Regions from separate parts of the Homo sapiens genome. Here all the other regions are linked to region 3. Evidence: fine-mapped expression QTL. A gene starts in region 3. Each other region holds a variant in brackets. All regions are shown on one strand. Distances are between the middles of the regions. Region 1 has its middle 37 kb from the start of OR2S2. Region 2 holds the start of TMEM8B (transmembrane protein 8B). Region 3 holds the start of RECK (reversion inducing cysteine rich protein with kazal motifs).

Evidence for each region. PIP is the estimated chance that this variant, and not a neighbour inherited with it, causes the effect.
Region 1: its variant is fine-mapped to the expression of RECK in lymphoblastoid cells (TwinsUK, PIP 0.92).
Region 2: its variant is fine-mapped to the expression of RECK in whole blood (INTERVAL, PIP 0.94).

Annotation. Positions count from the first base shown.
Region 1 is chr9:35,990,448-36,000,726 of GRCh38, forward strand. It overlaps the pseudogene OR13C6P. Among named protein-coding and RNA genes, the nearest start is that of OR2S2, 37 kb to the left of the region's middle. The variant C/T (reference allele first, on the strand shown) is at 4,836.
Region 2 is chr9:35,825,120-35,835,002 of GRCh38, forward strand. TMEM8B (transmembrane protein 8B) reads left to right here and starts at 4,109. Exons shown (of 13, transcript NM_001042590.4): 1 at 4,109-4,836; 2 at 9,342-9,531. The coding sequence starts at 4,329. It overlaps FAM221B (family with sequence similarity 221 member B), which reads right to left and starts at 3,613. Exons shown (of 7, transcript NM_001012446.4): 1 at 3,344-3,613; 2 at 445-1,042; 3 at 111-254. The coding sequence starts at 1,042. RefSeq lists enhancers at 978-1,337, 4,701-5,201 and a silencer at 3,966-4,415. The variant GGT/G (reference allele first, on the strand shown) is at 7,049.
Region 3 is chr9:36,029,149-36,039,289 of GRCh38, forward strand. RECK (reversion inducing cysteine rich protein with kazal motifs) reads left to right here and starts at 7,765. Exons shown (of 21, transcript NM_021111.3): 1 at 7,765-7,950. The coding sequence starts at 7,851. RefSeq lists silencers at 7,685-7,884, 7,895-8,044.

The DNA of each region.
Region 1 (10,279 bases), 39 kb before region 3:
AATACAATTTATTTGATCCTCCTGGACTTATCTCAGTTTTCGCATTACTCTGATGGCTCATGAGAGGCCACTGGTATCTAGGACAGAGCCCAGGAATGAACAATATCTTCCAAAAGAAAAAGAAAAGAGGATTGTGCCCTTGACCCTTGCATCAGTTTTGTCACACCTTCCTTACTCCCCTCTCTTCTCCAAGAGCATTAATGATTTTCTGGTGAGGACTCTGAGTAAGGACAAGAGAGAGACAAAGCTACAGGTTAATTTATGAAGATACAGAGACAGAAAAATTCAGCAAACAGTTTTAAGAATTTATATGACAACCAGAAAAAAAACAATGAGGAGAAAAATAAAACTAACTATTATGTAATATGGAGTAGGAAGATCTTGAAAGGTAACATAAAAGTAAGGACCCACAAGAGTTTCTATATTCTTTTAAAAGTGCTCGCTTACCTTTTCAACAAATGTGTTGATTCAAATTACTTCTCTGGGATCTGGGAGTAGTCCAGAAGCCAAAAATAGCCAATCTGGTCAGAAAGCAGCAGCCAAATATGTTCAAAGAAAGAAGCCGTGGAGCAATTGAATCAAAGACCTACAGACTAGAGCTTTTCATTCATCCAACAATAAAAATGTGAAGAGTTACTTTTCCTTGACATCAATTCATTCAGTATCCATCATGGAGAATGAGAACTACGAGGCTAGACAAACAAGAACATACTTTGGTGGAGTTGCATTAAATGTGTCCTGTTCCTACAGAGCCCTTCTATGTAATGAGATTCTGTGTAATGAGATTTACCCATGTAACCTTTGATCAACTTGGTCTTTCATCTTGTCCTCTGGGACTCTCAGGTGGGAGCAGTCAGGAAGCACAGAGCCATCAGGACCCCTCCACCATCACTGCAGGAAGCGTTTCTGAAATACCAGGTTCCTCACAGCAGCCTTCACTTCCTTGTTCCTCAGGCTGTAGATGATGGGGTTGAGCATGGGGGTCACCACCCCATAGAAAAGGGAAATGAGTTTGTCTGCAAGGTCCTGTTTGTCTGCTCCCAGTGGGTCCTTAGACTTGGGCTTCCCGTACATGAAGAGGATGGTCCCGTAGAAGACGATCACGACAGTGAGGTGGGCAGAGCAGGTGGAGAAGGCCTTTTTCCTCCCCTCAGCTGAGGGGATCCTCAGGATGGTGGCAATGATGAAGACATAGGAGAAAGAGATGAACAGAACAGGGACCCCCAGGAAGATCACATTGGCCACTCCCATACTGATCACATTGACAGAGATATCAGCACAGGCCAACTTCAGGACAGCCAGAATCTCACAGGTGAAGTGATTGATGATGTTGTCTCCACAGAAGGGCAGCCTCAATGCAAGGGGTGTCTGCACCATGGCAGTGAGGCTTCCAGCTACCCAGGAGCCAGCAGCCATGGGCACATAAGTAGCTTTGTTCATGACTTCAGGGTACCAAAGGGGGTTGCAGATGGCCACGTAGCGATCAAACGCCATCATGCTCAGGAGAACACACTCTGTGGCTCCCATGGCAAGGGAGAGGAACATCTGTACTGCACAGGCTGAGAAGGAGATGGTTTTCCTGGGGGTCAGGAAGCTGTCAAGGATGAGGAGGTTGTATAGCAGATGTCCAGGAAGGAGAGGTTCCCCAGGAAGAAGTACATGGGTGTGTCCAGGCGGGAGTCAAGGATGGTCACCAGGATGAGGACCCCATTGCCCAGTAGGATCACCAGGTACATCAGCAGGATGAGCACGAAGAATGTCTTCTCCAGCTTTGGATGGGCAGAGAGCCCCAGGAGAAGGAACCCCAGCACAGGGGAGGTCTGATTGGAACTGACCATGGTGTTTCTATGTCACTTGTACAAACTCAGAGGGCCAGCTCCATGATTCTCTGATGCCTAAAGTGCCCAGACAGCCAGTGAGGAAGCCCAGACTTGCTGAGCAATTGGAGAACAGCTCTGACAATTCAAAGGTTTCTCGATATTGCTTTAAGTAAAATGCAGGAAATTTGATCAAAATCTACTTGGTGGTATTTGGCCACCCCATAGAGAGGTTTCAAATGTCACCTGATTAGATTTAATTTTCCTCATCACATTTAAGACAGGCATCACACATTTACTTCAAGTTACATGTGTGGATGATTCATTTGGTTCAATTTTGGCAAGAAATGTTATATTCCATTTGTATGTTTTTTCCCCTTGGGACCTAGGACTGGTAGAAAAAACTGGTACTCCTCATCCTCAATCCCTGACCATTCTGCTCTGTGAGCACTTTTAAAAATTATTATTATTATTATTTGAGACAGAGTCTTACTCCATTACCTAGGCTGGAGTGCAGTAGGGCAAATACAGCTCGTTGCAGACTCAAACTCCAGGCTCAAGCAATCCTCCTGCCTCAGTCTCCCAGGTAGCTGGGACCACATGCGTATGCCACTACACCTGGCTAATTTTTAATTTTTTCTGGAGACGAGGTCTCACTTTGTTGCCCAGGCTGGGCTTAAATTCCTGGGCTCAAGCAATCCTACCACCCTGGCCTCCCAAAATGCTGGGATTACAGGCGTGAGCCATGGCACCCGGCCTGTGAGCAATTTCAGATGCTCTCTGCCTCCTCTTTACTAGCACTTCCAAGATCTACAGAACCCTGGGCTATTTGTCCACCCATTCATTCACTCACTCACTTGCCAGACTCTTCTGGAGCACATATTTACAGGACTGGCATTTGCCAACCAATCAATGCATGGGCATCGTGAAGTCCTTTTTCTTCTCTGAACTTCATTTCCTGGATGCTTACTTTGGAATAGATTATTATCAGAGATATTCCATCCCAGGGACTAAATGATCTCATGAATTTCTCATTCTTGGACTGTTGCACCATGGAGACATCCTTTTCTATTTCCTTCAAAATTCCCCCATGCCACTTAGTCACCAGGTATGCTACCGGGGATGGAGCTGGGCCCACAAGAGTTTCTATATTCTTTTAAAAGTGCTCGCTTACCTTTTCAACAAATGTGTTGATTCAAATTACTTCTCTGGGATCTGGGAGTAGTCCAGAAGCCAAAAATAGCCAATCTGGTCAGAAAGCAGCAGCCAGATGAGTTAGTGCCTGAAATGGGTGGACGTTTTCTTGTCTTTGTTCTGTGTTTTGGTAAAATCCACAAAAGACTAATCATTGCTCATACAAAGCCACTTAAATCCCATCCTGCTATTTGGAGTATTCTAGTCCCCAAAGTCATTTAAAGTTTGGAAATTCAAGTTACCAAGTCAAGAAACTTCTTATACATCTGGGATTGTGTCCCCATGATCCAATTACTCTGAAGTCTCTCCAGAAATACTTTCTTCTCTCCTTCCCTCTCTTCCTACCCATTTTGCTGGGCTATTGGAAAGTATTAGAGCGGAAGGATCATCCTGGCCCTCCCCAAATTAACAAGAACCCCCAGTCCATGAGAACTGTCACCAGAGTCCATGATAGATCTGGGGGAATAGGAAACCACACAGGACGAATCCTTGTGGGTTAGTCCCCTTGGCCATTTACAAATTCAAAGGGTTCAGGATCTCAGGTTTGTATGAAAGCCAGTGACCCAGAAGATCTCTTGTCTGCATCCCACCAAATAGGTTCTGCTAGGCATACCCTACCCAGACCAGACCTTTAAAGGGTCATAAGTGAATCTGGTCATGGCTTCTACCAGAGAGTTTCAGAGGCAAGGCAGCTGTGGACTTAAAAAAGAACAGTTGATCACGGAAGTGGTGTCCTGTTGCGAACAGCTCAGTCTTTTCCTGTGTGTGTGTGCATGAGTATACTATATCTGTGCATTTGTGAGAGCATCGCTGATTTACCACTGGGATCTGGTAACCTCCACTTCTAAGATCCAAAGCTGAGAGCTGTGACTGCCCAAGCAGCAGCCAGAAGCATCTTCAATGTGGACCACTGTTTTCTGATACACTATAGTTTCTTAATCACATTCCAGTTTTCCCTTTCCCATTTAATTTGAATACCGGAGATGGTAGGTGGCACATATGATGAGCTCTCATTCCACAGATGTTCTTGGTGTGCAAGAAGAGCCTGCCCAGTGTTAGCAAAAACACTTGGGCAATCCTAACCACCTCTTTCACAAAGGAACATGCCTGCCTTATACATACACTAGCTCTAAAAATCCTAGAATCAAATACATGCCACATTCGTAGTCATAAGCCATTTTGTCTTGCATTGAATTTTTTTCTTTTTGTGAGATATATTACACACACAAAAGAATGTAAAAAGCATATGTATACCATTTAAGGAAAAATAAGAAAGTATACTACCATGTCCCCCCCCCCAACCCAGGTTAAAATTAGGATGTTCCAGAACCTTAGAAGCCCCTCTTATTTCCCTATCCAATTAAATTTCCTTATTCCCTCCCTTCCAGAAGTGACCACTATTTTGACTTCTATGGAAATCATTTTGTGGTAGGCAGAATCTTCATGATCCCCATATGATCACATAATTCCCTTCGTGTGGTGATCAAACATTAACCTAGGTACTGCTGTGAAGGGATTTTGTCAATGTAACTAAAGCTCCAAATCAGTTGTCTTTAAGATTAGAAGATTATCCAGCGAGGTCTGACCTAACTAATCAAGTGAGCCCTTTAAAAACAGTTTTCTCTGGTTAGTAGCAGAAGGAGAAGCCAGATTCAAAGTGTGGGAAGAATTCCACATGCTGTTTCTTGATTATAAGATGGAGGGAGCCGCAAACAAGAACCAGAGAGCTGCCACAAGGAGCTAAGCATGAGCCCTGGTGACAGCCAGCAAGGAAACTGGGACCATAGTCTAAAAAACACAAGGAATTGAATTCTGCCACCAATA[C/T]CAATGAACTTGACTTTTTCTCAGAGCCCAGCCTAACTCACCCAACCTTCTCACTTCCAGAACTGTGAGCTAATAATTAGGTGTTTTAAGCTGCTGATATTGGGGTGGTTTATTATGCAACAAGAGAAAGCTAATATATATTCCCTTTATTTCCTTCACAGTTTTACCTTCTACAATGTATTGGTGTACAATGAATTGTTCCATTTTGAAAAATGGAGTGACAATTACAAACCTAGCTTTTTAAAACAATACATTTAAGGGGTACAAGTGAAGTTTTGTTACACAGATATACTGAGTTGTGGTGAAGTCTGGGTTTTTAGTGCAACCATCACCCAAAATAATGTACATTATGCCAATTAAGTAACTTCTCCTCCCTCAGCCCCCCTCACCATCCCACACTTCCTAGTATCCAATGTCAATTATTCCACACTTTATGTCCATGTGGACACACTGGTATTTGACTTTCTGTTTCCGGGCTGCATAACTTAAGAGACTGGACATCCAACATGGCCAGTTCCATCCATGTTGCTGCAAAATACATGGTTGCCTTCGTTTCTATGTCCAAAGAGTACTCCATTGTGTACGTAGATGACATTTTCTTTATCCAATCATCTATCTATAGATGCTTAGATTTATTCCATCTTTGCTGTTGTGAATAATGCTGCAATAAATGTACCAGTGTGGGTATCTTTTTTTACGTAATTAATTCTTTTCCTTTATGTAGATACCCAGTAGTGGTATCTACATAAAGGAAAAGAATTAATTATGTAATGGTGAAACCCCATCTCTACTAAAAACACAAAAATTAGCCAAGCGTGGTGGCGCATGCCTGTAATCCCAGCTACTCGGGAGGCTAAGACAGGAGAATCACTTGAACCCAGGAGGTGGAGGTTGCAGTGAGTAGAGATTGCGCCATTGCACTCCAGCCTGGGCAATACAAGCAAAATTCTGTCTCAGAAAAAAAAAAAAGAATTAATTCTGTAAAAAAGTAGATTGAGTGGTAGTTCTATTTTTAGTTCTTTGAGAAATCTCAATCCTGTTTTCCATTGAGGTTGCACTGACTTGCCTTCCCACCAACAATGTACAAATGTTTCCCTTTTTTCTCACCCTCACTAACATCTGTTATTTTTTGACTTTTTAATAATAGTCATTCTGACTGGCAAATCTAGCTTTTTGATGAAAAAAAAATATTGTCACTGTTTTGGGGAAGACTCTCCTGAGAATCTAAGCTCTCAGTTTCAATAGTCCCTTCCGGGTAAGTCAGACAGTGCTGCAGTGTGGCCAGGTACCAGACATCTGGCAGAAATATCATCAGAGAGAGTGGATTGTTTTATGTTTTCTGCTTCTAAGCTCTGAGTATGGCCCTCTTCCCACTCTTGGGAATAGATCAAAGCAGAATACTCTCTGGAGTGGAATGAGTGTCCTCTACTAACCCAGTCAGCAAGACATGGAGAGAGAAGAGGGCATTTTATACATGCATGGCCAAGATAAGGCCAGTGCAGGAAAGAATGTGGGCCAGGCTGTCTGGGGCATTCTGTCCTCAAGTTAATCACCATAGGCAGCAGGGGTCTATGAATAAGAGCCCTTGACATGCCTGTCTCTGGAGTCATAGGGCTGCCCTCTGGGCTGGCTGTCTTCTCTGCAGGGTGTACAACTGTCATGCCAGGATCTCCTTTTACTGTCCTGGGGACTCCTTACACCTCTCTTATGGGTTGGAACTTCTGTTTCTTTTGTCAGTTTCTTTCTATTTCTTGGTTTATTCTCTTATTTTGATAGAGCACTTTCTTGAATAACTTCTTTTTTTTTTTTGAGATGGAATCTCATTCCGTCACCCAGGCTGGAGTGCAATGGCGCAATCTTGGCTCACTGCAACCTCCGCCTCCATGGTTCAAGTGATTCTCCTGCCTCAGCCTTCTGAGCAGCTGGGATTACAGGCGCATGCCACCACACCCAGCTAACTTTTGTATTTTTAGTAGAGGTGGGGTTTTGCCATGGGCACCAGGCTGGTCCTGAACTCCTGACCTCAGATGATCCACCCACCTCAGCTTCCCAAAGTGCTGGGATTACAGGCATAAGCCATTCACTCAGCCTTGAATAACTTCTTGAGAAAAAGTGTATTATATACACATTTTTGAGATCTTATGTGTCTGAACATATTTTTATTTAACCTCCTGAGTGATAATTTGGTGGGTGTATTAGCCAGGGTTCTTGAGAGAAACAGTACTAATAGTGTGTGTGTGTGTGTGTGTGTGTGTGTGTGTGTGTGTACGTGTTATAAGGAACTGGCTTATCTGATTATGGAGGCTGACAAGTCCCAAGATTTGCAGTCAGCAGGCTGGTGGCCCAGGAGAGCTGATGAAAAAACTAATGTCCCAGCTCAAAGGCAGGAGAAGTTCCCTCTTACTCATCCTTTTTGTTCTATTCAAGACTTTCACTGATTGAATGAGGCTTAGTACATTAGGGAGGATAATCTGCTTTACTCCATCTATGCATTCAAATATTAATCTCATCCAGGTTCTCCCTCACAGACATATCCAGAATAATATTTGACCCAATATCTGGGCACCCCATGACCCAGTCAAGTTGACACATAAAGTTAATCAACACAGTAGTGTGTGGAATTCTAGGAACTTATTGGAAATCATCTTCCCTCTGAATTTGAAGGTAATTCTGGTGCAATCAGAAGCCATTTTGATTCCTGATCTTTTATGCTAATTGTTTTTTTACTCCATGAAAGAGTAAAGTACCCATACTCTCAACTGTGGCTGTTGTCTGCCAGTCCAGAGAGCCATGATTTTACCCTCCAGAGAATAAAAGTTTTGTTGGGGTAGGCAAGAGATAGTTGACTAATGTCATGGAATGAATGAAGGGGTGTAGGGACTCTGTTTCTTATACATTTGTCACCTAGTCTTCCTTTTTTAGTAGTACTTCCTTCACCCCGGTCCTAGAGGTACTTGGTACAGTGAGTTTCTCTGTGCTACAAATCTAGTTGTTATCAATTACTGTGGTTTGAATATCCCCTCAAAAACTCATGGTGAAATTTAACTGCCATGGTAACAGTGCTGAGAGATGGGACCTTTAAGAGGTGATTAAGCCAAGAGGGCTCAGCCTTCATGAAGGGGTTAATGCCATTATTGCAGGAGTGAGTTATTGCAGGAGTTTGGCCTCCTTTCTCTCCTTGTTTCATGTACTTGCTTGCTCTTTCACCTTCTGCCATGGATGATGCAACACGAAGGCCTTCACTAGATGCCAGTGTCATGCTCTTGGACTTCACAGCCTCCAGAACTGTGAGCCAAATAAATGTCTATTATTTATAAATTACCCAGTCTCAAATATTCTGTTAAAGCAGCAGAAAATGGAGTAAGACACTTACTTTTCCAAGTTTCTGGCTTGGGATTTGGCTCTGTCAGATCTGCTATGGCAATTAGCACTAGTTCATCTGCTTCCTAACTTTCACAATGTTCTTGCTGTTGATATCTTACTTCTTCTGCTTAACCTTGTAGATTTTATTGGAAAGAAAGAAAGACTATAGTTTTCATGGGTTTTAGGAGGAATGAAATTAGATGCATGTGTTCAGTTATCCTTTATGCAGTCTTGATTCCATAAAATTTCTAACATCCTATTTATTTTTGTAATTGTTTATTGCTTATTTCTCTCCTGTTAGAATACAAGTTTCACAGAGGTAAGTTTTTTTCTGTATTGTTCACAGATGTTTCCTTAGTATAAAAATAGGGCTTCACTCACAACTGACTCTCAATACATAGATGCTGAATAAATGAATGAATGAATCTGTGGCCTACCCTCATTTTCTTCTGATTTTGTCCCATGTTTGCTCTTTTTTTAAAAAAAATTTTATCTTTGTCCTATCTTTTTGAACTTCTATTTTTGTAAACATTGTAAATGTCCATAACATATTGGTACAGTAGAATACCTATAAATATATAGGTATTATAATATATACCTATTATATATATTATATATATATATTTATATAATATATATTATATATATAATATATTATTATAATATAAGTATATAGGTATTATAATATATACCTATAAGTATATAATATATACCTATAAGTATATAGGTATATATTATAAATCAATAAACAAATACAGTTTAAATTGTAAGGAAGCATGATATTAAAATGTTGGCAACCATGGACCCCAGATATGTAGTTTTTGACTGTGACTCCATCCTTCCAAATATTTAACAAACCTCTTTTTTCTAAGTGGCTCTTACATATTGGAAACATCTATTTTGAACAGAGCAGGCATGCAGAATTCAGGAATTTGGACGCCATTTAGAGGTGATCTGCCAGCTTCCTTCTTGTCTGCATCATGTCCCCTTCTTTGCCAAAGTGCCCTGGTGAGCAGGGGCTTGTGACTGCCCTCATCAAGATTTAGGAAAATCATTCCCAAGCTGCAAGATGCCCTGAGGTTCCAGTCTGGAATCTTTCTTTCCAGGCTTGAATTTATCTTGCAACTCTTTCCTAGCCCACTGCCACCCAATGCCTCACTCCCAGACTCAGATCTCCTGCAGGAAGCTCAGGAACAAGCGAGAGAAAAGGGCCTACAGCCCACATCATCACCTCAACTGTTATGGTCAGCCCCAGTACTCCCAGACACACACCACTGGATGACTTGATTGAATTCTGCTCTTTACAGAAGGTGTGCTCAATGTTAACTCCTGACATCATTATGTGTGTATAACTTCAAGCCATCTCCAAACATTTCTGGAATGAGGAGACAGTACATAGAAGAAGGAGATACAGGTATAAAATCAATGAGATTAGGTAAAAAATCCATAGCTCTTAATTTGAATTGTCTGTCTGTATGTATGATTTATATATTTGATCTAAATCTAAATATATATTTATATATCATACATACATATAATTCAATTATATATATTTTTTCATAGCTCTTTCCACTGAAACATTTAGAAACCATGGGAAACTCAATAGTAAACCTAGCACCCAGATTATGACTTCTAAATACCATTCCCCATTAAACGAAAAAAGAGCTCGTTAGACAAAATAGTTGTTTCAGGTCTGGGAAGGAAGAGTGAATATTGAGCTTGTAATATCTTGACATATCAGATAGCAGGAAGTCATCAAAGATACTAGCGTCATGCAAAAGGTCTCAGGAGCCATGAGCTCATAACTCCAGTAAAAAAAAAAAAATTAAGTAACTAGATCTAGGCATCAATGTATGGGAAACACAAAGACAGACACCACAGAATTGCAATCAGCAAAATCAGACTGTGGTAAACTTTATAGTTTTCCATATTGAGAAACTATTCCTTCCAAAAAAAAAATCTAGCCTAAAAGCAGGGTGGTGGCGGCAGGAACAGAGGTAGAGGGAAAGATAGAAAAAGGGAGGGGGAAATGTAGATTGAAAGAGACTGTACTGGTCCATTCTCACACTGCTAATAAAGAC
Region 2 (9,883 bases), 200 kb before region 3:
CCATTTCCAAAAGGGGAAGCTATCTGCTGAATGTTCAGGTTCCCAGATCTTTTGGATTAGAGGATGCCCATGGGCCTGTCACAGGCCTCTGAAAGGCCACATGGGCTCACCTGTCTGGATGGCATTCAGGGCTGCATCCTTCTCCCACTGGAAAAGATTGTTCACTTGAGCACCAAACTCCTCTCTATGCATTGCCTTAGCCACTTCCACCAGCTCTGTCTGCCTAGCAGGGAACACTGGGCGGGCTGTGTTACCTAGGATGGGAGAGGATGAGTAACCAGGGGGAAGTGAGAAGGCCCTAAAACTAAGAGAAGGGGCCATGTCCAAGAGTAACCCAGTCTCCTCCTCCTGGGGCAAGTCAAGGACAGTGAATAGTAGTGAGAACAGGACAGGGGAGAGGACAGGTACAATTACAGCTAACTCCTTTCTTCTTCTTCTTCTTGCCTAGTTGGTGTCCAGGTTGGGCTGTGTGAGCAGTGCTGTCACTGGCATCTACTCCCTTTTCAACCTCTCCTGCTTCTTCCTCCTGCTTTTCGGTTGTGTCCACTTGGACCTGGGATGAAGGGCCTGAAAGACAGTGTTCTGGAAGGCTCTCAGATTCAGAGAGATGGGTAGACCTCCTTGTCCATGGGACCTCATTGGAAGAAGACTCAGAGGAGAGGTCTTCCTTCAGAGTATCAGAAGAAGACAGACAGACATAGTCTCGTGATTGGGGAGGAAGAGTAAGGTGTTTCTCTGGCACCACTGAGATGGGACTATCCAATGAAGCCTCATAGGTAGGGGTCTCTGAAGGAGTCTCAGAGATGGAAGGCTCCTGATGGGTTTCAGGGGAATGGGCCTCTAAGGGGATCTGGGAAGGGGATGGCACCAAAGGGGATTCAGAGGTATGGGGCTCTAACGGGGTCTCAGAGGTGGAAGGCTTCAAGAAGCTTTCAGAGATATGGTTCTCCTGTAAGTCCTCAGCAGAGGGGTCCTTTGAAGGGGGGTGCTTCTCTGCATCCATGGTGATATGAGGCTCTTCTATGATCTCATGTGCTTCCATCTAGTGGTAGAACAGGGTACAGGCTTCATTAGGTTGGAAATAGAGGGCCGGCAAGTCAGGGCAGAGCCCAGGGTTCGCAGTGCATTATGGAATTTGGATAAGGATATCAGTGCAGCTGAGATATAAGAGGGAAACAACATGAACTCTGGGTCCTAGAGTGTGATGCCAAAAGGTTCACCCATGTGTCCAGACCTCATATGGCATGCTGCTGTGGCTTGTTAGGGAGCTGGAACTTAAAGATTGAAAGACTGAAGTAGTTCGAATCCCATCAGTAGATGGTAGCAGAGAACCATGTCCCAGGAGGGAGTCTGAACAACACCACTTGGGCAGTCCAAGAGCAGGGTCCTTGGCATATCTTAAAACCCTGGAGGTCAGACCATGGAGTTCTAGAGACTGGCAATACCAAGCCAAAGTTGGGGTTGGCTCCTGAGAGTGCAGGGGAATGCTGTCACATAAGGCAAGACACTGCACGCAGCCTGGTTTTGTCTAGGCACCACACACATCCTCCTCCCTTAATGATGTCATTCATGTTCAAAGCTTTAACTACTTCCAGTTGTGTACCAATGACTCCTAAATTCACATTTCTAGCTCAGACCTTTTTCAACCTCTGTACTTCACACTCATACCCACCTGCCTGCTGGCCTTCTCTTCTCTTCTCTTTTTGTGATGGAGTCTCGCTCTGTTGCCCAGACTGGAGTGCAGTGGCGCAATCTCGGTTCACTGCAACCTCCGCCTCCCGGGTTCAAGTGATTCTCCTGCCTCAGCCTCCCAAGTAGCTGGAATTACAGGCGTGTGCCACCATGCCCGGCTAAGTTTTATATTTTTAGTAGAGACGGGGTTTCACCATGTTGGTCAGGCTGGTCTTGAACTCCTGACCTCAGGTGATCTGCCCTGCTTGGCCTCCCAAAGTGCTGAGATTACAGGAGTGAGCCACCGTGCTTGGCCCCTGCTGGTCATTTCTAACTGAGTGTTTCCACAGACAGCAAAACTGAACTTTGGGAATTATCCTAGTCTTTTCCTTTTCCCTTAGACTCCATCTTCAAATAGGCACCAATAACTCTATTTCCTATCTTCTAAATATTCCCCAAATGCATTCTCTCCTCTCCCTTCCAATTTTATTCAAGTTCTCATCATCTTCAGCCTTTGTGTAATAACTTTGCCCCTCTACTTCCATCCACAGCATTTTAATCCATTCACCCATTCTTTCATGGATTTATGTAACTTATACTTTTACAATGAGCCTAATCTGATGCTTTTACTGACCCGCTGTGCTAAGCTCTAGATTGAGTTGAGTCTAGGAGAGAGACCGATTAACCAACAATGGCAATACAAATAAATTGATGTTGTTCTGGGGTGAGTCTAGGATACGGTGGGGAGGGGGATATACCTAATTTATCCTGCAAGGATGTAGTCCTCCTTCCTGACCCAATCAGGATCTTTCTAAAGTGCAAGCCCAACAACTGGCACTTTGTGGCTTAAAAACATTCCATGACTCAGTCTAAAGGATTAAGTCCAAATTTCTTGGCCCTGGCATTCAAGGCCTGTCATCATTTTCAACACAGCCTGAGGATTCCTGCCTTAACTTTCCGTGCTCCCTACTTTACCCCCATGTTCCAGAGACGCTAGATATATCACTCCTTAAATGCATCAGAGCCTTTTTGAAGGGGATGTTTGGGAAGGGAATTAGGGGCAGAGGTAGGATTACAGGGAGGAAGATGACCAGAGTCAGCTAGAGAGAAAAGGGGCCTAAGAGTGGAGAACCAGAAGATGGGAGGTGAGGAAGGGGAAAGAGAAGGGGAGGAGGAAATTGGGTGGAGGAGGAGAGTAAGGATGAAAAGTACAGAATGTGGGCCAGGCATGGTGGCTCATGCCAGTAATCCCAGAATTTGGGAGGCCAAGGCGGGTGGATCACTTGAGGTCAGGAGTTCGAGACCAGCCTGGCCAACATGGTGAAACCCAGTCTCTACTAAAAATACAAAAATTAGCTGGGCATGGTGGCAGGCGCCTGTAGTCCCAGCTACTGGGGAGGCTGAAGCAAGCAAATCACTTGAACCTGGGAGGCGGAGGTTGCAGTGAGCCCAGATCGCACCACTGCACTCCAGCCTGGGGGACAGAGCGAGACTCTGTCTCAAACAACAACAACAACAACAACAACAACAACAACAACAACAACTACTACTACTACTACTACTACTACTACTACTACTACTACTACTACAACAATGTGAAGGGACTGAGGGGTGGGAGAAAGACAGATGTCTTTGAGGGAAGAGGGCAAGGGCCGTTGGAGAAACCACCTACCCTCTGGGCTTTGGCTTGGTTGTTACAAGTCCTTAGGTCAAGACCTTGACTTAGGATGGCAGGGGGAGGTGTTGATCCTCAGGGAGGAAAGGCTCTTGGTTGTGGATGTGCCTCAGCTGCAGGTGCTGAGTGTTGAAATGCCTTGCCTGAAAGTCTGCTATCTGGGAAGGGGACTTGGATATCTGCAGAACTTCGCAAAGGAGCTCTGGCATGACCTGGGGAAGTGGGTAGGGACAAGGGGTCTAGGGCCAATGAGGGAGGGTCTTGACTGAAGCCTCCGGAACCCGGGCCAGGAGAGTAGGCGCCGGTCACCAGGGCAACCGGAACGCCTAGTAGTCTCCGTGGCAACGGCGGTCTGGTCACCTCCCCGGTGGGTAAGGTCTCCTGAGGGGCTTGCATTGGGCCTCGAGGGGGCGAGCCCAGAGGGTTTACTTCTGAAAAGTGGGGTGTGTGTTGCGGGATCTCTGTGAGCGAGTGTTTGGGTAGGATCTGCGGAGATCTGTGCGTACGTCCGGGGGAGTCTGGGATTGTGAGGATAGGGTTCCTTTGAGACATCTGTGGGGCGGTCGTTGGGGGCTGTGAGGATCTGAGGGGACCTCGGGCTCTGTGCTTGGGGTGAGAAAGGCAGGGTCTCGGGTAGCTGAGGCGGGGGCGGAGTCTGTGTGTCCTCGAAGCCCAGCAGGACTAAGTTGGGGACCAATAGAGTAGGGCGGGGGCGGGCTTTACTGACAGGGACCAATCGAGCCGGCCGGGGGGCGGGGCGTCACGCCGACGTCAAGTCGAGGCCGCCGCCGCGGGGCCTGGTTATCGCCGGTTCAGCGCAGCCCGGAGTCGCCCAGGCCTGAACTCCTACCCAGGTCCCCGGCCCCCGCCCCGGGCCCGCGAGGACACCGGAGGCCACCCCCCGGGGGTGGGGAGCGGAGCCGCGGGCCAGCTCTGCGAGCGCCCCGCGCTGGCCTGTCCGGCCCCGCCCCCGCCCCGGGCCATGGCCCAGCCCTTGTCCCGGCCCCTCGTCCTATCCCAATCCCCGCCTTGGCCCCCAGCCCCGCCCTCGCCCCGCTTCCCACATCGGCCCCAGCCCCTGCCTGGGTCCCCATCCAGGACCCCCTTCCAGTCTCTGCCCCTGGCCTGGCCCCCATCCCGGCCTCGGCCCTCGTTCCACCCCCTGTCACAAATCCCAGCCCAGGCCCTGTCCCAGCCCCATTCCCAGTGTTTGCTTAAGGCCCTGGCTCAACCCCGTCCCTTGCTGCAGTCCCCATCACAGCCCTTCCTTCCATCCCACTCCCTGCCCTTGTTCAAGCCCCAGTGTCCAGCCCAGCCCAACCCATTATCTCAGCCTTTGCCCTCATCTCTGTGTTTACCCAAGTCTCTCCCTCTAGTCCCCCCTATCTCTCATACTCTGCCCCTCTCCCAGCCTAGACTCAAGTCTGGGTTTCAGCTGCCGCCAGCCCTATTGCTGCTGTTGCTGTTCTCTGTCCTTGGCCCAGGGGCTGGTGAGTGCAGAAGCAGGGAAGATTGAGGCAGGAATGGGGTTCCGGCAGGGAGGGGTGGGCTGGAGAGATTCAGGAGAGGTGGGACCTGGGGAACTAGATCATTGGGGAGCAAGTGGGAGAAATAGAGAGTAGAGAGGTCTTACACAACAGGGATTGGCAGGGTCAAAAGAGTGGTAATTAATTGGGTTTGAGGCTCAGCAGGTGGCTTACAGTTTCTAGCACAGAGACTCCAAGATTTTTTCTGGTGTCTGTCCTGACCCCACTTTGACTCTTGCTTTTCCAGGGAAATGTTGTGGGCTTTGCTCCTGCTCACAAAGTTTGATGGGGGAGAGACAGTCCCACACCAGAAGCCCCTAGTGTAGTGTGGGAATATATAGCCCAAACCTTTGAGATATTGGGCATGCATTCAAACGGCATGAAGAAGAGTTTTAAAGATAATATGTAGCAAATAGATGAATATGGATTAGTTGCCATTATAATGAGTTTTCTTCTTGTAATGATTCTTGTTCCAAAGAAGATTGATTTGCCTAGGAATAATTCCTGATACTTTTAGAGCAGGGCTGAAACTCGGAGGCTATTTTACAGATGGGGAAACTGAGGCTCAGGGAGGGAGCAATTTGTCCAAAGTCAGAGAGCTTGTGAATGGCAGTGTGCTGGGGCTAGAAAAAAGGTTTCCTAATTCCTATTTCATACTAGTGTGTTTTTTTTTATCCACTGCAATGTATACTTAATAGAAAAATAGACCCAAGTGGGGAAAGGCTCAAAGCATAACCTCCCTTCTCCCCGGTCTGCCCACAAGGGTGCTTTATCCACAAACTGTTCCTTATTTGCCAGGCGTCAGCCAAGGGCCACCCTCCGGTGGGGAAGTGACTTGGACAGAAGAGAGAGAGGTCCAATTTTTTAATGGTTGGAATGTGGGAGGAGGAGGGGGTGTCCTGGTCTAGGGGATGTGCCATGAAGATGGCTCCATCATGGAGTGACTGTAGTCTTCATGGCCCAAGTCTGTAGCCACCTCTGGTGGGTGTCACTCTAGATAGGATGGAGATGTGCCTGATGGAGTCTTTGGAAATAACAGCCAACAGAACAGCTGGGGGGTGGAGAATGGGTATCAGTGAGCTCTGGGGGCCTGGTTCAGTGTACAAACTTAAGGAGACGAATGCACGTGAAAGGTCACAACCCCTGCAGAGATGTCTGGTCACTTATGTGTATGTGTGTAACTGAGGGATTGTGGGGAGGCTGGCAGCATGTGTACATGCTTGTGTGTTGTTAAGTGTAGACACGTGCATGTGTGTGGGGTGCATGTGAGCCAGTGTATCTTCTGAGCGCCTGTGTTATGGTATGAAGGGGAGGGGACATGTTGTGGCCCATGTACATTCCTCTTCAGCTCTGCCTCCTCCTCATATGGACAGATCACTGAAGCTGTGAATGGGGCTGGAGACCCTTTCTCAGCAGTTCCAAGGGTGAGGGCAGTGTTGCATGCCTCCCATAACGAATATAAGTTATCCATCCATCCCCAGCCAGTGCCTTTGAAGGAAGGAGCTGTGGAGGCACTCTGTGTTGATTACTGCTGCTGGCAAATTGGACACTGGGCAGAGGCAGTAGCCAGTCAGGTTTTCAGTTTTGGTAAGGGGAAGTTTATGCTGTTGGGCCAAGTTCCTAGCTTCCATCCTCTGCCATCATGGCTTCTTCATGTGCCCATTGAGCAAGCATTGGGCTGGTGAGGGGAGCAGGGTGACCGACAGCCACAGAGCATATACAGCTGAAAGTTGTGGATAAAAACACTGTTGCCCAGAAGCAGGTTCAGGTGCTTTGGGGAGAATTGTAATGAAGTTGGAAAAGAGTACCAATACACCCAAATGGAGGCAGGGCTGCCTTTAGTGCTGTTAATAATGAATGCCTTGGCAATTTTGGACCAAAGTACAGGGTGCTCTGTGACCTAATGGTGGTGATGGGTTTTGTCTGAGGAGAGGCTGGCAGTGTCATAGGACCATCATGGCACAGGGCTGCACAGTGCTTATTGGTTGCTTCGGTTTCATTTCAGGAATGGAAGTTATCTCTTGGGTCTAGTGGTCCCACTCCTGATCCTTGGATCTTTTCCTTGGGCTTAGTTGAGGACTCACACGTGCCTTGCTATTCAAAAAAAAATGGGCTTTTATTCTACCTAGTGCTATTACTAGCAGGGCCAGCCTCAGCCTATGTGTGTAGGTGTAGG[GGT/G]GTGTGTGTGTGTGTGTGTGTGTGTGTGTGTATGTGTATGTGTGTATGGGGTGGGTGATGGTCGGAATTACCCTAGCTTCATCATAGAAATATTGGGGAACCTGGAATAAGTTCATCTGAACTCGGTAAGGGCCTTACTCATGCTTCTTCTGGACACAGCTCTGGTAGGCCCTGTTCAAACCGCAAACCAAAGTTTGGAGTGAATGGGGCTGTGGACCCTTTCTCAAGCATCTGCCCTCAGAACTTCTTCCAAGTTCCTCCTAGCATTCCCAGCTGCTGCTCACTCCTTTATCTCACTGGCCTATTCTGTGACCTCTGTAGCCCCTGGCCACTGTGGGGATGGCTTAGCTAGTTCCCCAGTTCCCCAGGCCATACTGTGATCCTTTGAATTACAAGGATCTTTGTGCTTGTCTGTCCATGTTTCCCAAAGGTCATTAAACTGCTTTTCACCACTAGCCCTCATCTGAGGGTCTGCACCGAGGGACTGACCAACATTTCTCCTAACGGTAGCAATGGTTGATCAGATGACCCATCCCTGGTACCAGCTTTGAGGAGGATCAGCCCTTCCCTAACCCCAGCAGAAGGTGCGCTAGAGTTCTGATTTCTTCTAACAATAGTATCCAGGCTGTTCACCTCTTAGCCTTCTGCCTCCTACTTAGCACAGCTAGGGTTCCTAGGAAACCCGTCTCTTCCATCAGTCGGTCCCATTTCCCTTTATCCCTCTCGGCTGCATCTCTATCACTCTCTGAATGCTGCACTGGTAGCCTCTCTGGGTTCCTAGGCAGTGCTCAGCTTGCAAGGTGACAGGTTTTCCTTCCTGACAGTTGAGACTGATCATGTGGTCTGAACTGGACAGACTAGTCCTTGAGTGTAACCGTGGCCTCCAATGGCCCCCACCTATGTAGGGCAGCTCTCTGGGGTGACTCCTGGGGTTGCTCTGGTTCAGTGTTCGTCCTTCAGCAGCCTCCCCTTCCCTTTCTTTGTTATTTCAAAAACACCTCATTTTTGGAGTTAATCTCTCCCATCTCCAGAGAGGGAGATGATTGGACTAGGTTAGCCCTGAGGGTATTTCCTGCTTGGCTGAAAATGCCCCTCCAGAGTAGTCCTTATTCCAGCCCCGGGTCTGTCCTGAAGCTGCTGAGTTCCCCACCTTCTCACCTGTCCTGGAGGTGTCATCTTGGGCTTCTTTTCTGGCTGGTCCGAAGTCTCCAGAGCAGTCAGATTCCCTAGAGGTTTACTTTGAGAGACCTTGCCTGCCATTTGGGACCCTCTTCCCCTGTCTGCTACTGGTTGCCTCCACTGTGACAGCTATTCTAGTCCCTTGCCTGGCTAGCTGCTGACACAACTTCTGCTCACCTTGGCTCTGCTCCTGACAATCATGATCAGGTATCTTGGCATTTTAATGAGGGATGACCACTTCCTCCCCACCTCCCAACTCGGCCTGCTCTGAATATTCCCAAGGGGCTTGAAATCCACTGGGTCACTAACTCACTGCCTCACTGGGCTTCCCTTTGGGGGAACATTCCCCCGGCCCCCACCTACTAGCTGTGCATTCTGACCTGGGAGGCCTGATGACTCTCCTTTCCTGGGGACTCTCATGGTGGCCTGCCAGCTCCTGTCCTTGCTTTTGCCACCCAAGCAGGCCCCTGGCAGCCGTACCACACTTTCCCCTCCCCTCTCCTGCCCTGAGCCAGTATACAGGCAGCGCTTGTGAGGCTGCTGAGGGTTTTTACTGCTCCTAACCACAGGGGAACAGAAAGGGGAAGAAAATCAACAAGGAAGTTACACAGTTCCATGCTGACTCCCAAGCCCCACAGGTGGAGTTTCAGCCTGCTCAGTGGCTTAAGACGCCATGCCAAAATACACACACACACACACACACACACACACACACACACACACCTTCCACACATCTGTTTTTTTTAGGTTTGGTAAGTGGAGAAAATGGCTCCTAAGTGAGGAGGCAGCTGTGAAGTCAAAGGGTCTTAGTTTTGGATTTAGAGAGAGCTAGGTTTGCATCCTCAGTTTGGTCTAGGTTTGAGCCTCAGTTTCCTTATCTGTAAAAGGAGGGTTTTTTTGTTTTTGTTTTTGTTTTTTTTTAAATAAGATTAACGTAAGGATTAAACCAGATGATGGCTAGGTTTCAGATCTGCAGCCTGAAACCCAGTTCCTGGCTCAGAGGAGAGCATTTGTGGAGTTGATGCTATTGGTGAGGAAGACTGGCATGCCTGTTGCTTAATGGAAATGCCCTCTGTCCTGCCCTGCTCCTTTCTCTCTCTCCTGCTTCCCAGGAGGCCTTTTCCTGACTGATTACTCCACCTGCTCACCCCGCAAGCTGAGTCCTTTCCGCTCCTTTGCCAGCACCGAGCTCTTCCACTTCCATGTTCCTGAGGACACATTCCTGGCTGTTTGGAACCTCATCATCTTCAAGGAGCAAGGGGGAACTTTTGGGGACCACTGCCCAGACCAAAGTGTGACTGTGTGAGTGTCTGAGTTAATTTCCCAACCCCACTTCCAATCCCTGACCACTTTCCAGACTAAAGTGTGACTTTAACTGACCTCCCGACCCTGACCCCAACCCGCGTCCAGATTGAAGTGTGACTGAGTGAGGGCCATGACCTCTGTCACATGACCACTTCCGGACTACTGTATGACTGTGCAAGTGCTTGAGCTGATCTCTCACCTGTGGCCCCTGACCTGGAACCACTTTGTTGAATGTGTCAGTATAGGGAATCTATTTGTTTTATCGGTGAAGAGTGACAGTTCTTTTCTTTCTTTCTTTCATTTCCTGCCTCCCACCCCATTGTCTGCTTTCCTCCTCTCCTAATTCTGG
Region 3 (10,141 bases):
CCAGAAAAATGAATCCAAACTGTAAGAATTTAATCCATATACATCAGACCAAAATTAATAGCTTAAAGAAGGAATCATGTTTTAATAAATAGTGGAACAGCAACAACATTCAATTGAATGAAGGTTGCCTTTGATCCATAAATCACACCATATACTTCCATAAACTTCAGCTGGATTAAACAACAAATGCTGTTATGATTACAAAAAGCTAAAAAAGAACACAATGACATATTTATACCAGCTGTAGAAGAGAGTGTGATTCATTATTCTGGGAGAGAAAGAAGGTATCAGAATTAAAATAGATATGTTGAAACATACATTATACAAAACTCTGGAATAATATAACCTGATTAAACAAGAATCTAATTTTTCCCCAGTGGAGGTCCGTCACATCCCACAAGTAGTTAATTTGAGTTTCTTTAAAAATATAGCTATTCTAAATAACTTTTAATATGCAAGACAGTGGACATACACGAATGTGTTCTGTTTTTCAATTTTTGACATGCTAGAAGCTACTACCACATTAACATGTGTCCTGTCGAATTGACTCACTTTTGATTAGAACTTGGAATAATTATTTTCCTGCCATCTCTGTGCAATCTTCTTTAAATGTCCTTGATTCGAAAAAAGTGTGGCTCTGCACTTATCTTTTCTCTTTTCTCTGTTTATTACTAGAATAGATTCAGATGTGGAATGATCTTTCTTTAATCCAAGCCTATGCACATAGCTCATGTAAAATTATACAAAGAAGTACAAATATGTGCTGTTCTCAATTAAGTGTTGGGCAAGGCTATGAATCATCTGCTTGGTGCATGTTCTTTTTATGGCATCATAGCCAATTGCACAATAACAAGAGAACATGTCACACAAAAATAATGTGCATTATAAATAGTATGAGGATTAACCACAAATTTTGGTTGCTACTACCTTATAAATAGCATCGAGATTAAACATAAGTCTTGGTTGCTACATCTTTGGTTCTTTTCAATGTGTGATAAGAAATTTGAGCAGCTGTCATATTAGTGAATCAGTTTTTTCAGATTTTTAACATCTAACATTTTTTAAATTAATAAACTTTTTTAGCACACTCTGGTTCACACTTGAGTGGAAAGTACAGTGGGCTCCCACACATCCTCTGTCCTCACATATGCACAACCTCCCCCACTATCAACCAGAGTAGTACATTTGTCTCAATTGGTTAACCTACATCAACACATCATCACCCAAAATCCGTCATTTGCATTGGGGTTTACTCTTGGTGTATACATTACTCTATGGTGTACCCATAGAATACATTCTATGGGTTTTGACAAGTGTATAATGACATGTATCTACCATTGCAGTATCATGCAGATTAGTTTCACTGCCCTAAAAAATCCTCTGTGCTCTGCCTTTCATCCTTCCCTTCCCCCAACCCCAGGCAAACACTAATCATTTTACCGTCTTTATTGTTTTACCTTTTCCAGAATGTCATATATTTGTAATCATAAAGTATGGAGCCTTTTCAGATTGGCTTCTTTCACATAGTAGTATGCATTTAAAGTTCCTTCATGTCTTTTCATGACTTAATAGCTCATTTCTTTTTAGCACTGAATAATATTCCACAGTCTGGATGCACCAAAGTTGTTGTCTTTTTTTCCTCCATTCACCTACTAAAGGACATCTTGGTTGCTTCCAAGTTTTGGCAATTAGGACTAAAGCTGCTATAAATATCCATGTGCAAGTTTTTATGTGGACATAAGTTTTCATGAACCAATATTTAAACAGAAATTTCTCAGTGCTTCATTTTCAGGATACCATCTTAATTTAAATAAAGAGTTGTGTGGGATTGCAAGTTAAGTTATTTCAAAAACGGTGACCCTTGGCAAGGTACTCATCTCTATGAATCAGGATTTTCTCTATAGCAGGCAACAAAAAGAAAATGCGTTAAATAAATCGGAAGCTGGAACATGTGTGACTGCAACAGTCATCCATAATTCCAGAATTCAAGTTTTTATATTTATCAAAATCTTACTCACTGTCTTTGAATTCTCATTCACTGTCTTTGAACTCTCATTCACTGACTTTGAACTACATAATTGCTATAAATTTGAACTTATAAAATAAGTGTAGCAATACAACACAACTTTTTTCTTGTTTATATAGCAGAACTCTAAGATTTTTTTGGGAAAGGAATGATTCTATAGTTAAAAAATAAAAAATAATAGTTTTAAGTTCAAAAATTACTAAAATAAACTGCCAAAGAGAGTAAAGAATGGGGGGGTGGAAATTTTATATTCACAGGCTTACGTCTTTAGAGGGCTTATTGGAGGCTGGCAGGATATTGTACCAGCATCATAGGCTGAGGTCTCAATGCTGAATTTCATAACGTGGGTGTTGGATGCCTAGGAGTAGGGCTTTTCTTCCTCCTCTTAGATCTTACTGTAGGCATCAGTGTGGATGTTAGATATGCCAATTCTGCTCCGAGGCACAGGGACCCTTCGTTCTCCAAGGCCTTACTCCCAGTTATTAAATTAACAGTGAACATGACACACTAGCAATTGGAAAATGTCTCTGGCTGGTAGTTGCTTTCAAGCAACCACTTCTAGAAGGGGTGATCAAATCTTCAATGGACAGTTAGTTGACTCTGCATATCCCCTTCCTGCCGAATGACTAAAACTAAATCTCAGTAAGTTCAGTGGGATCTCAGTTTAGTCAAGGCCTCTCACAAACCCCTCCCCAGCTTTGAGAGGTCTATATAGAGCCAAAGCCAGCAACTGGGACTGGAGAAGAAGACAGGACATGTGGTCCTCAGTCATCATCATCAATCCCTGTTGACATCTGCATTCTCATCTGGTATCCATTTGTACAGATGATTCAAATAACAGATACAGCCTCCTCATTCCAATCTTGAGGTCGCTTCAGGCTCTCAGCTGTCTCCTACCTTGCATCTCTTGAGGGGCAAAAAAACATTTGGCTGCTCTTCTGTGTGGAGCATGAAACAGGACACATTTGCAGCCATTTCTACTCTATACCTACATCGTGTTAAGTGCAGATGAATTTTATGAGGTCTGTCATTTCCTGAGCTCCACACAGCAAGGAGAATCAGATCCCCTCTTATCTCGTAGTCTCAAGCCTTTCTGGGGATTCTATGTCCCACCCCACTGCATCAGAAGAAGGAGACCAGAGACGCCTTCTTTTCCTCCAGTGGCTCTCCTCCTTCCACATCAGAGTGAATCAAATTGCTGGGGACTGAGGGGGTAGGAGGGACTGTGTCTGACTAATCATAGTATTCTTCCATGTCTGTTCTTCATACAAATATTTTATGCTCTCAGCTATAAAATAGACCACGTTCTGATATTTCAAAGGCTTTTTCTCTTTAAAGCCATTGTCTCTGCCTGAAATTTTAAGTGTATGTTTTTTAAAACCAAAAGCTAGGAGTTGTCCTCTTTGACTATTTTTCTACTCTAATGATCATCTCTGAAGATGTGAATGCCTTGCCCTCATGTTTTAGTTCTAATGAAGGAATTACTGGGAACAGAAAATACATTAATATTTCACAAAATTGTCCTACTGTACACATATGAAATCAGATGCCATAAAGTCTTAGTTAACTAACTCAAAATGGACCTCTTCCTTATTAAGCTAGGTCAATTAATCATGATCAAATATGTTCAGGCTAAACAAAGTCAGAAAAAGTATTTCCATTAAAGATTGGCTTTAGAAATTTACTATGCAAAAGTTCTAAAAAACAATACTCCTATTTAATTAAAACTACTTAAACATCTGCCATATTCTTAATTTTAAAAGTTTCTCTTTCTGAAACAGATTCAGGCTCTGCTGCAGGAAGCAATTAAGAAATGAGGATATTTGGCCAGGAATGGTGGCTCACAGCTACAATCCCAGCACTTTGGAAGGCCGAGACAGAAAGATCACTTGAGCCCAGGAGTTCGAGACCAGCCTGGGCAACATAGTGAGACCTCGTCTCTACAAAAAATCAAAAAAATTAGCTGGGCATGGTGGCACACACCTGTTGTCCCAGCTACTCAAGAGGCTGAGGCGAGAGGATCACTTAAACCTGGGAGGTTGAGGCTTCAGTGAACTGTGATCATGCCACTGCACTCCAGCCTGGGTGACAGAGCAAGACCCTGTCTCATTTAAAAAAAAAAAAAAGTTTGTGTGTGTGTGTGTGTGTGTATGTATAAAAGAAATAAGGATAGTCTGTAGTCTCAGACAAAAATATCTGCCCTCATGAAGTAAGGAAACAAATAATAAACAAGCAACACTTTGGGAAAGTAAGTAGTATATTTTATAATATTATATATTAGAACCTATTAATATGGTAGAAGGTAATCATGGCTTTTGAAAATATAAAGTGTGAAAGGGGAGAAGAAGTTCAGAGGTGGGGTTGAGTTTTAATTTTAAGAAGGGCAATTAAGGAAGGCCGTTTGAGTTAAGACCTAAAAAAGAAAAGGGAGAGTGTACAACTATCTGGGAGAAATTAATTCCAAGCAGAAAGAACTCCAAGCACAGAGGTCCTGAGGCAGGAGTTACATGGAGCAGTTAGGGAAAGGCCCTGAGCAAGATTGGCTGGAGGTGATGGCTGGACACGACAGAAACAGTAGGAACTGAAGTCAGAGATAGAAGAAGAGGAGGAAAGGTGCAAGACCTTGAGAACCATGGTTTTTTGGCTCAAAACAAAATCATTGGTGAGTAACATTCTTTAAAATATCGTACTCATCTCTAAGCATTAACCTTTTTTTAGAATGAAAGATAATTACACTACTCTTACAGTGCTTAAAATTGCATATTGGGGCTGGGCATGGTGGCTCATGCCTGTAGTCTCAACAGCTTGAGAGGCCGAGGCGGGAGCATTGCTTGAGTCCAGGAGTTTGAGAACAGAATGGGAAACATAGCAAGACCACATCTCTACAAAAAATAAAATAAAATAATTAGCTGGGCATGATGGCATGCACCTGTAGTTCCAGCTATTCAGGCAGCTGAGGTGGGAGGATCACTGCAGGCCAGGAGTTCAAGGCTGCAGTGCCCCAGGACTGTGCCACTGCTCTCCATCCTGGGCAACAGAAGGACACCCTGTCTCAGGAAAAACATAATTACATTTGTGGTTCACTTTGGGCTCACACGTGTAATTTTAAGTTTTCTGATAGCTACATCTTAAAAAATAAAAAAAATAAGAGTAGATACATGTTATTACACCTTCGTCTAAACCCACAGAATGTACAACACCAAGAGTGAATCCTAATGTGAACTATGGACTTTGGTTGATGATGTGTCAATGTAGGCTCATCAATTGTAACAAATGTACCATTCTGGTGCAGGATGCTGACAGTGGGGGGAGGTTTACATATGTGGGGGCAGGGACTGTCTACCTTCTGTACTTTCCACTCAGTTTTGCTGTCAACTTAAAACGGCTCTAAAAAATAAGGTCTACTTTGCCTCAACCTCCTGCCTCAACCTCCTGAGTAGCTGGGACTATAGGCACGCGCCACCACACCTGGCTAATTTTTGTATTTTTAGTAGATACAGGGTTTCACCATGTTGGCCAGGCTAGTCTTGAACTCCTGACCTCATGATCCACCCACCTTGGCCTTCCAAAGTGCTGGGATTACAGGCATGAGCCACCGCGCCCAGCCCCTGTCAAGAGTTTTAATGCTTTCCAGCAGCCACACATCAAATGATTGCCATCAGGATTAGACAACTTGAAGAACTTACCCCAACTGCCAAAGCCTACATGTGATTCTACATCCCAATGTAACTACTTATTTTTTTTTTTCTTTTAATTGAGATGGGGGTCTGACAACGTTGCCTGGGCTGGCCTCAAACTCCTGGGCTGAAGTTATCCTCCCACCTTGGCCTCCCAAAGTGCTGGAATTACAGGCATGAGCAACTGCGCCCAGCCGCAACTGTTAATAATGATAGCATCATGACTCTTTGGCCCAGTGACTGTGTCAATAGTGGTACTATTACTCTCAGAGGGGAATTGTTAAAATAAATTAAAATGAAGACCAGGTCTGCAGAATTCCTGAGCAGATAGTCAATTTAGTCCTCATAAGTGACCTTAAACTTACTTGAGTTAATCTGAGCTATTTCTTGTAAATGCATATATTAAAGAAAAACAGAACAAGCTCAACCAATCAGAAGTAGTCCACAAACTTGTATAACTAGAGGCTTTTTAGTGGGATAGACCAAATAAGGCAACTTTATAACTGTAACCAATCAAATATTTTCTTTTTATTACTTTCCCATTCACTCTGTAAAAATCTGCTTCTTCGACAGAGCTGAGCCCCAGAACCACTTCTGGTTTGCAGCTTCTCAATTCATGAATCACCGCGTGCTGAAGTAAACTTTAAAATTTTATTGTGCCTCAGTTTACCTTGTACACAGAAGCAACAGAGTCATCAGAGGAGATGTTTTAGATATTTTAACTTATTCATGTTTTCCTTTTGTAAACTCGAAAGAGAGGATAAATGTAAGAGCCCAAAAACATAAAAACCAACTTTAATATATGGATTTTGTTTAGAACTTGAAAAATTGTAAAAAGAAATCATGAGACAATAAGAAAAATGTAAATAATGACTGGATATTTAATAATATTAAGGAATTTTAAAAATGTTTTAAGTAATTTAGCCCCAGGTGTCTTCATGAGAATTTAAAACGGTGGTCATGCTTTTTCAAAAAAGGAGGAAAAAGGGTTTAATTCAGGAACACACAGAGAAAAAAAGAGACAATGAATTAGCTTTGCTAGCCAGTGGCTTAAACATTCTCCACGTAGCTGCTGGGCTGATGGGTGGGGTGGGACCCACTTCCAACTTGTCTCTTGGACAAAGTCTATACTTCTCAGCCGGATATTCAAGGCTTTCCACATCTAGGTATACAAGCGTTCTCCTATCCTCTTTTCCTATCAGGAATAGGTGCTTAATAGTAACATCAAGGCCAGGCACAGTGGCTCACGCCTGCAATCCCCGTACTTTGGGAGGAGGAGGCTGGGGGATTGCTTGAGGCGAGGAGTTCGAGACCAGCTTGAGAAATATGGTGAAACCCCTTCTCTGCAAAAAAAATATAAAAATTAGCCAGGCGTGGTCACCTGCGCCCGTGGTCCCAGCTATTCAGGAGGCTGAGGTGGGAGGATCGCTTGAGCCCGGGAGGCGGAGGTTGCAGTGAGCCGAGATCGCGCCACTGCACCCCAGCTTGGGCGACAGAGCGACTCTTGCCTAAATAAATAAATAAATAATTTTTAAAGTACAACAAAGACACATTGAGGCTATAGTGCCAAAGAGCTCTAGTGATGAACCCTTGTCAGGGGGCCGTGTCTGCGGGAGGCCGAAGGATCCCGGGTGACATGCTTTCTTTGGGTGCGAGGCAGCGTCTCGGCAGAAAGAATATTGCGAGTATTACTGAGGGTACATGAAGGAGAGAAGCCCCTTTGGTTCGGCCTTGGACTAAGCCCTTGTTCTCAGGTGAACTTGCAGTGTGATCTTGAGTAAGGTCAGTCTCCTCTCTCACCTCAGTGGCCCGAAACCTCAGGAGGTGGCAGAGGTTTTCTAATGACTCTCCCAGCTCTGACATCCTCTGACTTCACTCTGGGAGAACGTGGGCTGGTGGACTCCTGGCAGAAGCCGACACACAGTTGGGCCATAACAAAGAGCCCTGGTACGGGGCACGTTCCCGCCCCCGGGAGGTTTTGGAAACACTGTGAGGCAGGGGGCGGGGCTTGAGCGGGCCGCAGCCAGTCACCAAAGGGCCGGGCGCTGGGGGCGGGGCCTCGCGCGAGCGGCGGCGGTAGCGGCGGCAGCGGCTGCGGCCAAGCTGGGTCCGAGCATCCCGCGGCTCTGGAGCCGCCCGGCCCGGACATGGCGACCGTCCGGGCCTCTCTGCGAGGTGCGCTGCTCCTTCTGCTGGCCGTGGCGGGGGTCGCGGAGGTGGCAGGGGGCCTGGCTCCGGGCAGTGCGGGTGAGTAACCTCCAGAGCAACGGTTCGAAGCTGTCGGGAGCGGCCGCCACAGCGCTCCAAGATGGCGCGGGGCAGGGGGCGGGGGTGCGCGCGACCCCCAGACCCTGCCCACGTCCGGCGACCCCGGGACCCCAGGTCTCAGCGCTCCAGAGGCTGGTGCCGAGGCGGGGCGAGTGAGGAACTCTCTCCGCCCCAAGATCTTCTGGGCGGTGACTCGGGTTTGAGGCCTTGGTCTGTCACCCACCGACACGGGCCCCCTCTTCGGCACTGACCCCTTCGCTTGCCTCTGCTGCTTGTCAGAAAAGGGTGCGATGCCCCCGCCCAGGATCGTCGCGAGGTTTAGATGGGATTTCGGATACGCAGCCGCCCTACCGCGGCCCTAGTTAGTTATTGTTACTTGTTACTTGACCCGCACTTGGTTCATAACGACCTTGGTGGCGGTGAGCACTGACGGTCCCCACAGCCCGCGTGGTGGGTCCTGGACTCGGGCAGGAGACATTAAAAATCAGTAAACCCTGTCCCCCGGGGGCTGGCAGGCTTGAGGAGAGAAATTCTTGCTCTACAAGAACTAAACCAAGGATGGATAGGAAACTGTTAAGTGCTTATTGATTGCTTCCCGCTTGCTGGCCTTTTGAGTGCACGCCGACTCCTTCCGTCCAAAAGCTCTCTCGGTAGGAGATGGGGTACAGCAGGAGATTGAAGTAACTCGAATTCAAGGCAGAAATGTCCAGAGGAAATGAAGGGCCATGTATGAGTGCACAGAGGGAGAGAGGACATCGACCTAGGATGAGTGGAAAGTGGAGTGATTCCCCCTAGCTGTACTAGACATTGAAAGATGGCTAGGACGTGTGCATGCAAAAGTGGTGAAGTGCATTGCTTACAGGGAGACAGGCAGAGACACCTTAAAAAAAAAAAAAAAAAAAGCAAAGTCAGCCGGGTGCGGTAGGCTCTCCCCTGTAATCCCAGCACTTTGGGAGGTGGAGGCGGGCGGATCCCTTGAGCCCAGGAGTTCGAGGCCATCCTGCTTAACATAGTGAAACCCCGTTTCTACTAAAAATACAAAAATTAGCCGGGCATGGTGGTGTATGCCTGTTGTTCCAGCTACCCGCGAGGCTGAGATACGAGGATTGCTCGAGCCCCGGGAAGTTGAGGCTGCAGTGATATGCCACTGCCCTCGGAAGTGAGACCCTGTCTCAAAAAAAAATCAAAGTCAGTTCCAACAGGGGTATTAACTATAGCTAGGTTTCAAATTTAGCTGTAAACTATCCCAAAGAATAAAAGAGAAAATGCTGTGTATTCTTGGCTAAATCAGATTACTTTCCTGGGCCCCATTTTTCTCCCTGTTAAATTAAAAGAGATTGAACTGAAACACTTACAAAATTATGAAATACTAGTTGTCCATTCTCCTCCCACAACCAGTCAGTTCTGCAGGAGGTAGTACAGTGGAGTGGTTAAGAACATTGAGCAAATTACTTAGCTTTAATCTTTTTGTGCTCAAATAGCCACATTTATTATAAATGGTACCTCACAGATTTTATTATGAGAATCGAGGTAATACATGTCCAGCATTTAGCGTAGTAAGCAGTGAAATATTAGCTATTAAGTATGTTCGGGAAATACTGCAGATGGTACCCTGTCTTATAAATTCACAAAACACATTAGATTCACAATAAAGGGTCCAAGGATTCCTGTGGTAAAACAAACAAACAAACAACAAAAAAAAAAACAAGAAACTTTTTTGCTGGGGGAATGGCAGTGATTGCTAATGAGTATGAAGTTTCTTTTGGGAGTAATGAAAATGTTCTAAAATTAGATAGTGGTGATGGCTACACAACTCTGTGAATATACTAAAAACAACTGAATTGTACATATTAAAAGGGTTAATTTCATGGTATACAAATTGTAGCTCAATAAAGTTGTTAAAGAAAGAAACTTGTTTGCTCATAAAATTCTTTTTTTCTTCATAACACCTAAAGCGCACTTCAGAAAATGCTGGGTTAGTTGATTTCTAAAGGCCCTTCTAAGCTCTAAAAGTTCATGACAACATATAGTTTGCATTGTTTGATAAAAAAAAAAAATTCCAAGTTTGATCTAAAAGTGAGACATGTTCCTTATACTAAATTCTAGGAAGCATGTATTGCCTGGTTCCTTACTAAAGGACATTGAGTAATATAATGGACAAAGGCTTCCA